3 linked regions of the Homo sapiens genome follow. The protein of the gene in region 1 interacts with the protein of each later gene in a pairwise test. Each region holds a gene or a part of one and is shown in the gene's direction. Other genes may lie near its edges. The genes, in order: GPSM1, HMG20A and ZBED1.

What was found.
Region 2: the proteins of GPSM1 (region 1) and HMG20A interact in binary tests that used the Homo sapiens proteins (3 or more experiments, as listed by UniProt).
Region 3: the proteins of GPSM1 (region 1) and ZBED1 interact in a two-hybrid assay, tested with the Homo sapiens proteins (one large-scale study listed by BioGRID and IntAct).

Annotation. Positions count from the first base shown.
Region 1 is NC_000009.12:136,340,942-136,344,594, forward strand, and holds part of GPSM1 (G-protein-signaling modulator 1), read left to right. Parts: coding exon 1-52; coding exon of another isoform or gene 53-219; exon of another isoform or gene 220-897; intron 898-3,653. UniProt on the Homo sapiens protein: Guanine nucleotide dissociation inhibitor (GDI) which functions as a receptor-independent activator of heterotrimeric G-protein signaling.
Region 2 is NC_000015.10:77,423,772-77,427,424, forward strand, and holds part of HMG20A (high mobility group protein 20A), read left to right. Parts: intron 1-3,653. UniProt on the Homo sapiens protein: Plays a role in neuronal differentiation as chromatin-associated protein. Acts as inhibitor of HMG20B. Overcomes the repressive effects of the neuronal silencer REST and induces the activation of neuronal-specific genes.
Region 3 is NC_000023.11:2,488,425-2,491,098, reverse strand, and holds part of ZBED1 (E3 SUMO-protein ligase ZBED1), read left to right. Parts: intron 1-326; 5' UTR 327-379; coding exon 380-2,464; 3' UTR 2,465-2,674.

The DNA of each region.
Region 1 (3,653 bases):
ACCAGCCCGGCAGCCTCAGAGAAGCCTGACCTGGCCGGCTATGAGGCCCAGGGTGAGTTCCAGGGTTGTGGGGGGGTCTTGCTCCCCACAGGCACGGACCGCATCAGGAGCTGCGGAGGGGTGGGATCGAGGCCAGGCCAGCATGGCGGAGGTGGCAGCCGCCAGAAAATGGCGCCTACAAGCCAGTTCTTCTTGGCCTCAGGGACAGCACAGGCCTGAGGTTCACCCTGAGCCCTTCCCACCCGCATCCTGAGTGGCGCTGCAGGGCTGCTGGATGAAGGACAGGAGGTGGTCGCCTGTTGCCCCACTGGCTGCTCCAGGGCCTCCACCCCCACCTCCCCCTGGAGCCCTCGGTGCAGGGAGGGCTTCTGTCCTCAGACCCAAGTAGGAGAGGGCTGCTGGGAGGCGAGAGGGCATCAGCCAGAGGGCTGGGCTGGGCTGGGCTGGGCTGGGCTGTGGGAGCCCTATGTGCCTGGGGCAGTAATCAGGCAAGGCCCAAGGCCATGCGAGGCCACCGTGGTGACCTCATTCATGGACCGCTGGTCGTCCCATGCCGGTCAGCAGTGCTGCAGACACAGGACAGAACGTCCCCTGCAAAGCGAAAAGACTAATAGGTGCCAGGGGGGTGGTGCCAGGTTGGGCCGACTTCCTGAGGTGGCTGGCAGGTGGGTGAGGGGCAGGCTTGGGGGGAGCAGCTGCCCCACCCATGTGTCCCCCACTCCCAAAGGTCTTGAGTTTGCCAGCCCCCGAGAAGGGATGCCTGCCTCCCAGAACGTACCTGGTGCCCCCCAGGCCTGCTAAGGACCAGGCTGGGAACACCAGGCTTGGATGTGGTGCTGGGCTGCCGGAGTTTCTTTTTCTTATCTTATTTTTAATAATTAAATGTTTTTATAGAGATAGGGCCTCACTATGTTGCCCAGGCCAGTGTCAAACTCCCAGCCTCAAGCGATCCTCCCATCTCGGCTTCCAGAAGTGCTGGGATTATAGGCGTGAGCCACCGTGCCCAGCCATCCCCTGGGTTTTTGTGCCACAGTGCTCATGGGTTTCTGACGATGACCTCTCCTGGGAAATTGGGGGTGCATGTCAGCCACCGCAGAGGCTGAAGACAGAGGAAGGAGCAGAGGCTCTGGGGCCCTCAGCGAGTCCGTGGGACAAGGTGCTGTGACCGATGGCAGTGGGTGGGTAGGGGATGGGCTGGAATGTGCCCCCCAGGATGTCCAGGCCTATTTCTACCCATGGCCGGGGTTTCCTAAGGGTGGGGAGCTCTGCCGAGAGCTCCTGCGGCACCCCTAGTACCCTCCTGTGTCCCTGGCTCGGCACTGCCACCATCTGGGACCCCAGCAGCAACTGGCAGCAGGGCTGGGAGCAGCTCTGGAAAGGCTCCGCGGAGGCTGCGGCTCTGGGTCCTCCCGACGTTTTCTTTCTTGGAGCCAAGGAAAAGGGGGGCCGGAGTGGGAGGACGCTGGAACAATGCAGCTTCTGTCCCTCTCTGGCTCCTCTGTGCCGCCCCGAGTGCGGGACCCCTTCCAGCCGGCCGGACGCCTCCTCCCCCAGGGCTGGGGAAGGGTCCTCCTCCCCGCCCAGGGCAGCCCGGCAGCCTGGCTGGGGCCGCCGCCCGGCTGCCGCTGTGGGAGGCAGGCTGCACACCTAGAGCCTGGGCGGCCCTGGGTGAGACCCCGGCTCAGCTGAGCCTGGCAGGGACAGGGCCTTGAGGCCGGGAGTCTGGACCCGGCGTTGCGGGTTGGGGGCGCCACGGAAGGACCCACGCAGCCTCCCCATTCGGCAGGTGCGGAGGGCGGGGTGGATCTGCGAGCTGCGGGAGGGGAGGGGGGTGCAGAGCCGCGCTAGAGCCTGGCCGTGCGGAGGGGGCGCCAGGGCTGGGGGCACAGGAGGGCGCTGCCCAGCGGGGTGTGGGCAGGGAGGAGGAAGTCGTCTGGAGGTGGGGCTTCAGCCCGGCGGGGACGCGGTGGGGCGTGGCCTTGCTGTTGTGGGCGTGGTCCATGGGGGCGGTGGGCGTGGCAGAGGCTGGTGGGTTTGGTGTCCCGTTGATAAACACAAGGAGACTTACGTGCGGCTGGAGGACAAAGAGCCTTGGCGCGGCTCAGTCAGCGTATTAATCTCACCGCCCTCTGCTGGCCCCTCCCCAGCCAGCAGAGAAGCCCCAGAAGTGTGTCTGGGGGTCACCACCCTGCCAGCCACTGCCCTTGTCCAGCTCCTCTGGGTGTGTGGCCTCTATGAGACCCTGACAGCAACCAGCCCCCACCTCCCTGGCCAGAGGGCACAGGCCCGGGCCTCCCACACTTGCTCCTGGGCTGCCCACCCCCCACCCCAGCAAGGGTGCCAGGCAGGACGGAGGCTCTGCTGCCACTCTTGGTGCGGGCAGCATGATTGGCATGTTGGGAGGAGGGAGCCGGCCCTGAGCCCTGCAGGACCGCCCCCTGCCCTTGGCCTGTCCCCGATGGCCCTGCCTGTCCCACAGGATGTGCGACTGCCCTCGGCCCTGCTGACCGTACTTCTCAGCCCTCCACCGTCTGGGCCCTGCTCAGGGCGTTGTGAGCACGGTACACAAGAGTTACTGGGGGAGCATGCCACCAGCCTTCCTGGGAGAAGTCCCCTGAACGTCCCAACGAGTGGCCTTGGGGTCAGGGATGTGCATGGCATAACCTCCCCTGCAGTTTAGGCTGTGGGCTCCAGCCCTGGCCAGCTGATCAAGTGACTTGACCCACTTGTGCCTCAGTGTCCCCATCTGGGGAACGGGCCCATCAGTAGTGCTGGGAACAGAGCTTGGCAGGGGTGAGAGGCCAGCGAGCCTGAGGGCCCGTAAGCCTGTTGCGTTCGGGCCCTGGGTGGACGAGGCAGGTGTGGCTGCAGCACCATCCGCCTGTTCCAGCAGCCCAGTGGCCCTTGGGCAGCCGCCGGGATGGAGGATGCACCCTCTGTCCGTGCGCCTAAGAGGGCCCAGAGGGGACAGTGTGTGGGAAATGGCACACAGGGTCCCGCACGCAGCAGATACACAGTAAATGCCTGCTGCTTGGTCACCAGGCTCCTGCCGTGTGCCAGGCACTGCTGGGGCCCTCACTGGCACCAAGACCGCTGAGCCGCGTCCAGCAGCTGATAGGTGAGGAACGGGGAGCCCAGGAGTGAGCCACATGGGATGAGCTTTGGGAGAAAGAAAAGCCCAACAGGGAGGTGCGGACAGGAACGGGGGAGGTGCGGACAGGATCGGGGGGAGGCGCGGACAGGAGCGGGGGGAGGCGCGGACAGGAGCGGGGTGGGGGCGCGGACAGAAGCGGGGTGGGGCGCAGACAGGAGCAGGGGAGGCGCGGACAGGAACAGGGGAAGCAGGCTGCAGCACCTTTGGGAGATGACCATCATGGTCCATTCCGACTGCCCTCACAAAGCACCGCAGGCCGGGGCAGCAACAGCAGACGTTTACTCCTCACGGCTCTGGAGGCCAGAAGGCCAGGGTTTGGGTGCTGTGTGCTCGGGTGCTGGCGAGAGCCTCTTCCGGGCTGGCAGACGGCGCTTTCTTGTTGTGTCCTCACCTAGCAGAGACAGCGAGGAAGAAGGGGGAGCTTGAGAACACTGGTGGCTTCTCTTAAGGCCACTTGTCATTATGGGGCTCCATTCTCATGACCTCATGTAAACCTCAG
Region 2 (3,653 bases), on another chromosome or scaffold:
CTTTCCTTGTTTGTCGTTTTGGTGGTGGTTTGTTTTTGTTGTTGTTTTTGCCGTAGGGTTGAGGATTAAAGAAAGTATCTTAAGAACCTGAATGGTTTTTCACCTTACTGCTTTGCTGTCTCTATTTCATAGCCTTCACAGGTATTCAAATGAGAATACCCTTTACGTGACTTTTCATTATTTAAGCAAAAGTTTAGAGTGTCTACTATATGCCAGTCACTGTTCTCAGGACTTTGAATACAGTAAATACGGCCAAATATTCATATTCTACTGTAGTTTACTCTCTAATTTACAAATTAAAACTAGAATTTTGCTCCCTTGGTATTCCTAAATAAGATCTATGTTATGATCGTTGTTCAGACTGGGTAAAGAAGCAGCCCTAAACTTGATCTCTCCTGGTCTTAATCTCTAAGCCATTCTAAACCCAGATTTGAATGTTTCAGCCTAATTTTTCTCCAGACCATAGAAGCCCCTGTGTTAAATATGCAGTCCCTTTCATTGATACATGTATCATTTTCCTACCATTCTAGCTTCTTTTGTATTGTGAAAACAAATGAGAGTGAACAGTGGGGAAAATATGGGATCAGATAGGCCCAAATTCAGCACTGGTCTCTGCATTTTACTGGCTGAGCTTACTAGCTTGGTAACCATGAGCAATTTATTTGACCTCCCTAAGCCTCAGTTTTCCTAAATCCAAATGGGGTTGTTTGGTGGAATCAGAATGTTGTATGTAAATCTCCTGGTCCAATGCCTGGTGCCAGAAGCTTCATTAATGCAATTATCTTACCCCCAATCTTGCTTCTGCTACTCTGGCTATTGTGATTTGCCCACATGTCTGTTTTAAGCTTTACATTTTCCCCACAGTATGGGATGCAGTGGTAGACTGACTGAGCTTCAGCCTTGTCCCCCTATCAGCATGCTCACACAGTTGTCAAGATTTAATTTTTTTTCCTTGTGGGAAGGAGAAATCACTAATTTCCATGATTAGAAGATATACAAAATAGAAAAGTTTCAAGAAAAGGAATCTTAATCTTGGCACAAATCACTAAGGTAATTTGAATTGTTACAGGCAGACTTTCAACTCATTCTCCTAAACTTATTTAAATACGAAAACCAAAAATGACCTTTCACACTATGATCATACCTCACATTATTCATCTACACATCCAAACGGGATCGCCTCTGGGGGGAAAAAAATCTGTACTGCACCCAGCATTAATATTTTTTTTTGCTCATGCTATTTTCTGCCTGAAACACTCTTTTTTCCTAGGAATCCCCATCTATCAAAATGCCACTTTCTTTGAGGTCGTTTCTCAAGTACCACATTTAAGAAATATTTTCTGATATCCATCCTCTTCTACACTCTCCCAAACTGTACACGTTCTGTCCATTAACTCTCCAGAGCATTATACCTTTCTTACAGCACTTACTGTCCAGTGCTCCTCTTGTTTGTTTTTATTGCGTTGTTGTAGGTAGAGTTTATGCCTTCCCTAAAAGGCTGCAGACTAGGTCTTATTCCACTCTGTGCTGTCATACCTGGCACAAGACCATTCACATCATAGGTATTCAGTAAATATTTGTGGACGTGAGCTGGCTCTTGGAGTATGACAAAACTGATCAATAACTTTTGTCCACAATTATGCCCAGCATCAGCACAATGGCTATCATACATTAGACACTCAAATATCTATAAAATGAAAGAGTGAATAGTAAGTCATCATTCTCTCATTTGGGAGCTTCTTAGGGTGTCAGATAAGCATATATTAAGCACCTCCTATATAACTGGAGCTGTAAGAACTGATCTCTGCTCCTCAATTTAATTGGAAAAAAGTAAATTGTTACTAATATCTGCAGACTTTGAAGATGGTAGGTGTTTGAGTAGGGATGGCATGGAGAGCTTAATATAGAATTGTTTGCATTGTGAGAGATACCCTCTGCTACCTGAACTCAGAAACCAAATAGATTTTTATATCAAATATTTGGACACTTAACTTGTATTTCCACTCCTAGGTATATATCCAAGAGAACTTAAAACATGTTCACACAAAAACTTGCACACAAATATTTGTAGCAGCCTTATTTGTAAAAGGCAAACTCAAATGTCCATTAATTATTGGATGACTAAACAAAATGCGATATAGCCATACAATGGAATATTATTCAGCAACAAAGAGAAACAAAGTAGCAATACCTGCTGTAACATGGATAAAACTTGAAAATATTAAAGTGAAAGAAGTCACATACAAAAGGCAACCTATTATGTGATTCCATTTATTTAAGATGTCTAGATTAGGCAAAACTAATAGAGACAGAAAGTACATTAGTGGATGGGAATGGGAGTGACTGCTAGTATGGAGTTTCCTTTGGAAGTGATGAAAATGTGCCAGAATTAGATAGTGGTGGTGGTTGCATAACCTTATATACTAAAATATCTTGTATACTAATATACAGTTGACACCTGAACAATGAGGGGGTTCGGGGTGCTAACCCCTGTGTTGTCAAAAATCCATGTATAACTTCTGACTCCCCAAAAAGTTAACTACGTAAATAGCTTACTGCTGACTGGAAGCCTTACCAATAGCATAAATAGTTGATTAACACATGTTTTATATGTTACATGTACTATGTACTGTATTCTTACAATAAGCTAGAGAAAGAAAATGTTACTAAGAAAATGATAAGGAAGAAAAAATATGTTTACTATTTATTATTCGTTAAGTGGAAGTGGATTATCATAAAGGTATTCATCCTTGTCATCTTCACATTGAGTAGGCTGAGAAGGAGGAAGAGGAAAGGTTGGTCTTACTGTCTCAAGTGGTGGAGGCAGAAGAAAATCAGCATATAAGTAGACTCATGCAGTTCAACCCATGTTGTTCAAGGGTCAACTGTACAAAAAAAATCCTGAAATATACACTAAAGGGGTCAGTTTTATGGTATGTGAATTATATCTAAAAGAGAGAGATACTTAGACTTGAAGAATAGAGAATTTTGAATGGAGCCAGAAGAAAGAAGCAAGAGGTGTGAAAGCAAGGAAATGATCATTCTTTCTCAGATCCTAGAGAGAAATATAAGCAGCTAGGTACAGGGCTAAAGGTATGTTAAGGATCAGGTGAGGATGGATATGAGGATAGCTTCTGGGTTTTTGTCTTAATGTAGCAGGGATTTTGGTAAATACTTAGACTACAGAGGTATTAACAAAGGAGAAAAACATCTTATGACCTTGAAGGAAGCTTCAGATTTCTTCTTGATTAGGTCAAGGATGTGGTATATGGTCTTTTTGGTTTCTGTGTTACGGTCAGCTGAGTTTAAAGAGTGGGAGTATTCTAAGGTAAGGAGTCTAGTAGCAATCAAAACAAAGTTACTGGGGAAGATGGGAGAATAGAGACTAGACAAAGATGTTAGAATTTGATTCTAAAGCTCTCCTCAGGTAATAAAAATAGATAAATCTTAATGAGAAGGAACCAAGGGCAGTGATTTGGAGAAGTCAGTACAAATAAAGGTATTCATTTGAAGAAATATTTGAGTGCCTTTTATGTGCCAGGCACTATTAAATAAAACTATAGCTATTTTCCTTATTTGACTTTTTTTCTGAAGATAAAATCTTATGAGTGTGATTAATGGTTCTACAAGCATGGGTAGTTCTAGATATGATA
Region 3 (2,674 bases), on another chromosome or scaffold:
AACTCTGTCTCAAAAAAAAAAAAAAAAAAAAACTAAAGGCACTTGTCAGGTACAGCCCTGCAAAAATGCCGTGCTCACTCGCAAACCTGTATGTTGACACGTGCGGCATCGCTGCAGTCGGATTAACGTGGAAGAAAGAGCGTATTCCTGCGCTAGGTTCCCTCCTCCACTCTGCAAAAGTGACCCGCAAGGAAGGTCCAGCCGTCCGGCCCCAGTGCCCTTTGGTTGAAAGCGGAGCTGCCCCGGCACCCTGTCTGTCTCCCCGGCAGGGCTCCCGTGCGTGCCTGGGTCCCTTCTCATGCTGTGTTTGTCTTGGCCCTTCTCAGCAGGTCCCCACGCATGAGCAGCCGTCCAGCAGGCAGGCTCCGGTGGAGAAGCAATGGAGAATAAAAGCCTGGAGAGCTCCCAGACAGACCTGAAGCTGGTGGCCCACCCCCGCGCCAAGAGCAAGGTGTGGAAGTATTTCGGCTTCGACACCAACGCCGAGGGATGCATCCTGCAGTGGAAGAAAATCTACTGCCGCATCTGCATGGCCCAGATCGCCTACTCCGGAAACACCTCCAACCTGTCCTACCACCTGGAGAAGAACCACCCCGAGGAATTCTGCGAGTTCGTCAAGAGCAACACGGAGCAGATGCGTGAAGCCTTCGCCACCGCCTTCTCCAAGCTGAAGCCCGAGTCGTCCCAGCAGCCCGGGCAGGACGCGCTGGCCGTCAAGGCCGGCCACGGCTACGACAGCAAGAAGCAGCAGGAGCTGACGGCCGCCGTGCTGGGCCTCATCTGCGAGGGGCTGTACCCAGCCTCCATCGTGGACGAGCCCACCTTCAAGGTGCTGCTGAAGACGGCCGACCCCCGGTATGAGCTGCCCAGCCGGAAGTACATCTCTACCAAGGCCATCCCTGAGAAGTACGGGGCCGTCCGGGAGGTGATCCTGAAGGAGCTGGCCGAGGCCACCTGGTGTGGCATCTCCACCGACATGTGGAGGAGTGAGAATCAGAACCGCGCCTACGTCACGCTGGCCGCCCACTTCCTGGGCCTGGGCGCCCCCAACTGCCTGTCCATGGGCTCCCGCTGCCTGAAGACCTTCGAGGTGCCCGAAGAGAACACGGCGGAGACCATCACGCGAGTGCTCTATGAGGTCTTCATCGAGTGGGGCATCAGCGCCAAGGTCTTCGGGGCCACCACCAACTATGGCAAGGACATCGTGAAGGCGTGCTCCCTGCTGGACGTCGCAGTGCACATGCCCTGCCTGGGCCACACCTTCAATGCCGGCATCCAGCAGGCCTTCCAGCTCCCGAAGCTGGGGGCGCTGCTGTCGCGCTGCCGCAAACTGGTGGAGTACTTCCAGCAGTCTGCCGTGGCCATGTACATGCTCTATGAGAAGCAGAAGCAGCAGAACGTGGCCCACTGCATGCTGGTGAGCAACCGCGTCTCCTGGTGGGGGAGCACGCTGGCCATGCTGCAGCGCCTCAAGGAGCAGCAGTTCGTCATCGCCGGGGTCTTGGTGGAGGACAGCAACAACCACCACCTCATGCTGGAGGCCAGCGAGTGGGCCACCATCGAGGGGCTGGTGGAGCTCCTGCAGCCCTTCAAGCAGGTGGCCGAGATGCTGTCGGCCTCCAGGTACCCCACCATCAGCATGGTGAAGCCGCTGCTGCACATGCTCCTGAACACCACGCTCAACATCAAGGAGACCGACTCCAAGGAGCTCAGCATGGCCAAGGAGGTCATCGCCAAGGAGCTTTCCAAGACCTACCAGGAGACGCCCGAGATCGACATGTTTCTCAACGTGGCCACCTTCCTGGACCCCCGCTACAAGAGGCTGCCCTTCCTCTCCGCCTTCGAGCGGCAGCAGGTGGAGAATCGCGTGGTGGAAGAGGCCAAGGGCCTGCTGGACAAGGTCAAAGACGGCGGCTACCGGCCGGCTGAGGACAAGATCTTCCCGGTGCCCGAGGAGCCTCCCGTCAAGAAGCTCATGCGGACATCCACGCCGCCGCCCGCCAGCGTCATCAACAACATGCTGGCCGAGATCTTCTGCCAGACAGGCGGCGTGGAGGACCAGGAAGAGTGGCATGCCCAGGTGGTGGAGGAGCTGAGCAACTTCAAGTCCCAGAAGGTGCTTGGCCTCAACGAAGACCCCCTCAAGTGGTGGTCAGACCGCCTGGCCCTCTTCCCCCTGCTGCCCAAGGTGCTGCAGAAGTACTGGTGCGTGACGGCCACGCGCGTCGCCCCTGAGCGTCTCTTCGGATCCGCCGCCAACGTGGTCAGCGCCAAGAGGAACCGGCTGGCTCCCGCGCACGTGGACGAGCAGGTGTTTCTGTATGAGAACGCCCGGAGTGGGGCAGAGGCGGAACCCGAGGACCAGGACGAGGGGGAGTGGGGCCTGGACCAGGAGCAGGTGTTCTCCTTGGGGGATGGCGTCAGCGGCGGTTTCTTTGGCATTAGGGACAGCAGCTTCCTGTAGCGAGGAAGCGTGTTGTCTTACAAGTCATCCCCGCAGCAGCCCATTGGATGCTTTGCTGTAAATACTTACCCGGTCAGCTTGGTTTTGAACCTCAGAGACCATCCACTGTCTTTGACACCTAGAAGGTGGAAAAAGGAAAGAGATTTGAGAAGTGAGAGAGGGTCGGGGGCGGTGGCTCCTGTCTATAATCGCAGCACTTTGGGAGGCCGA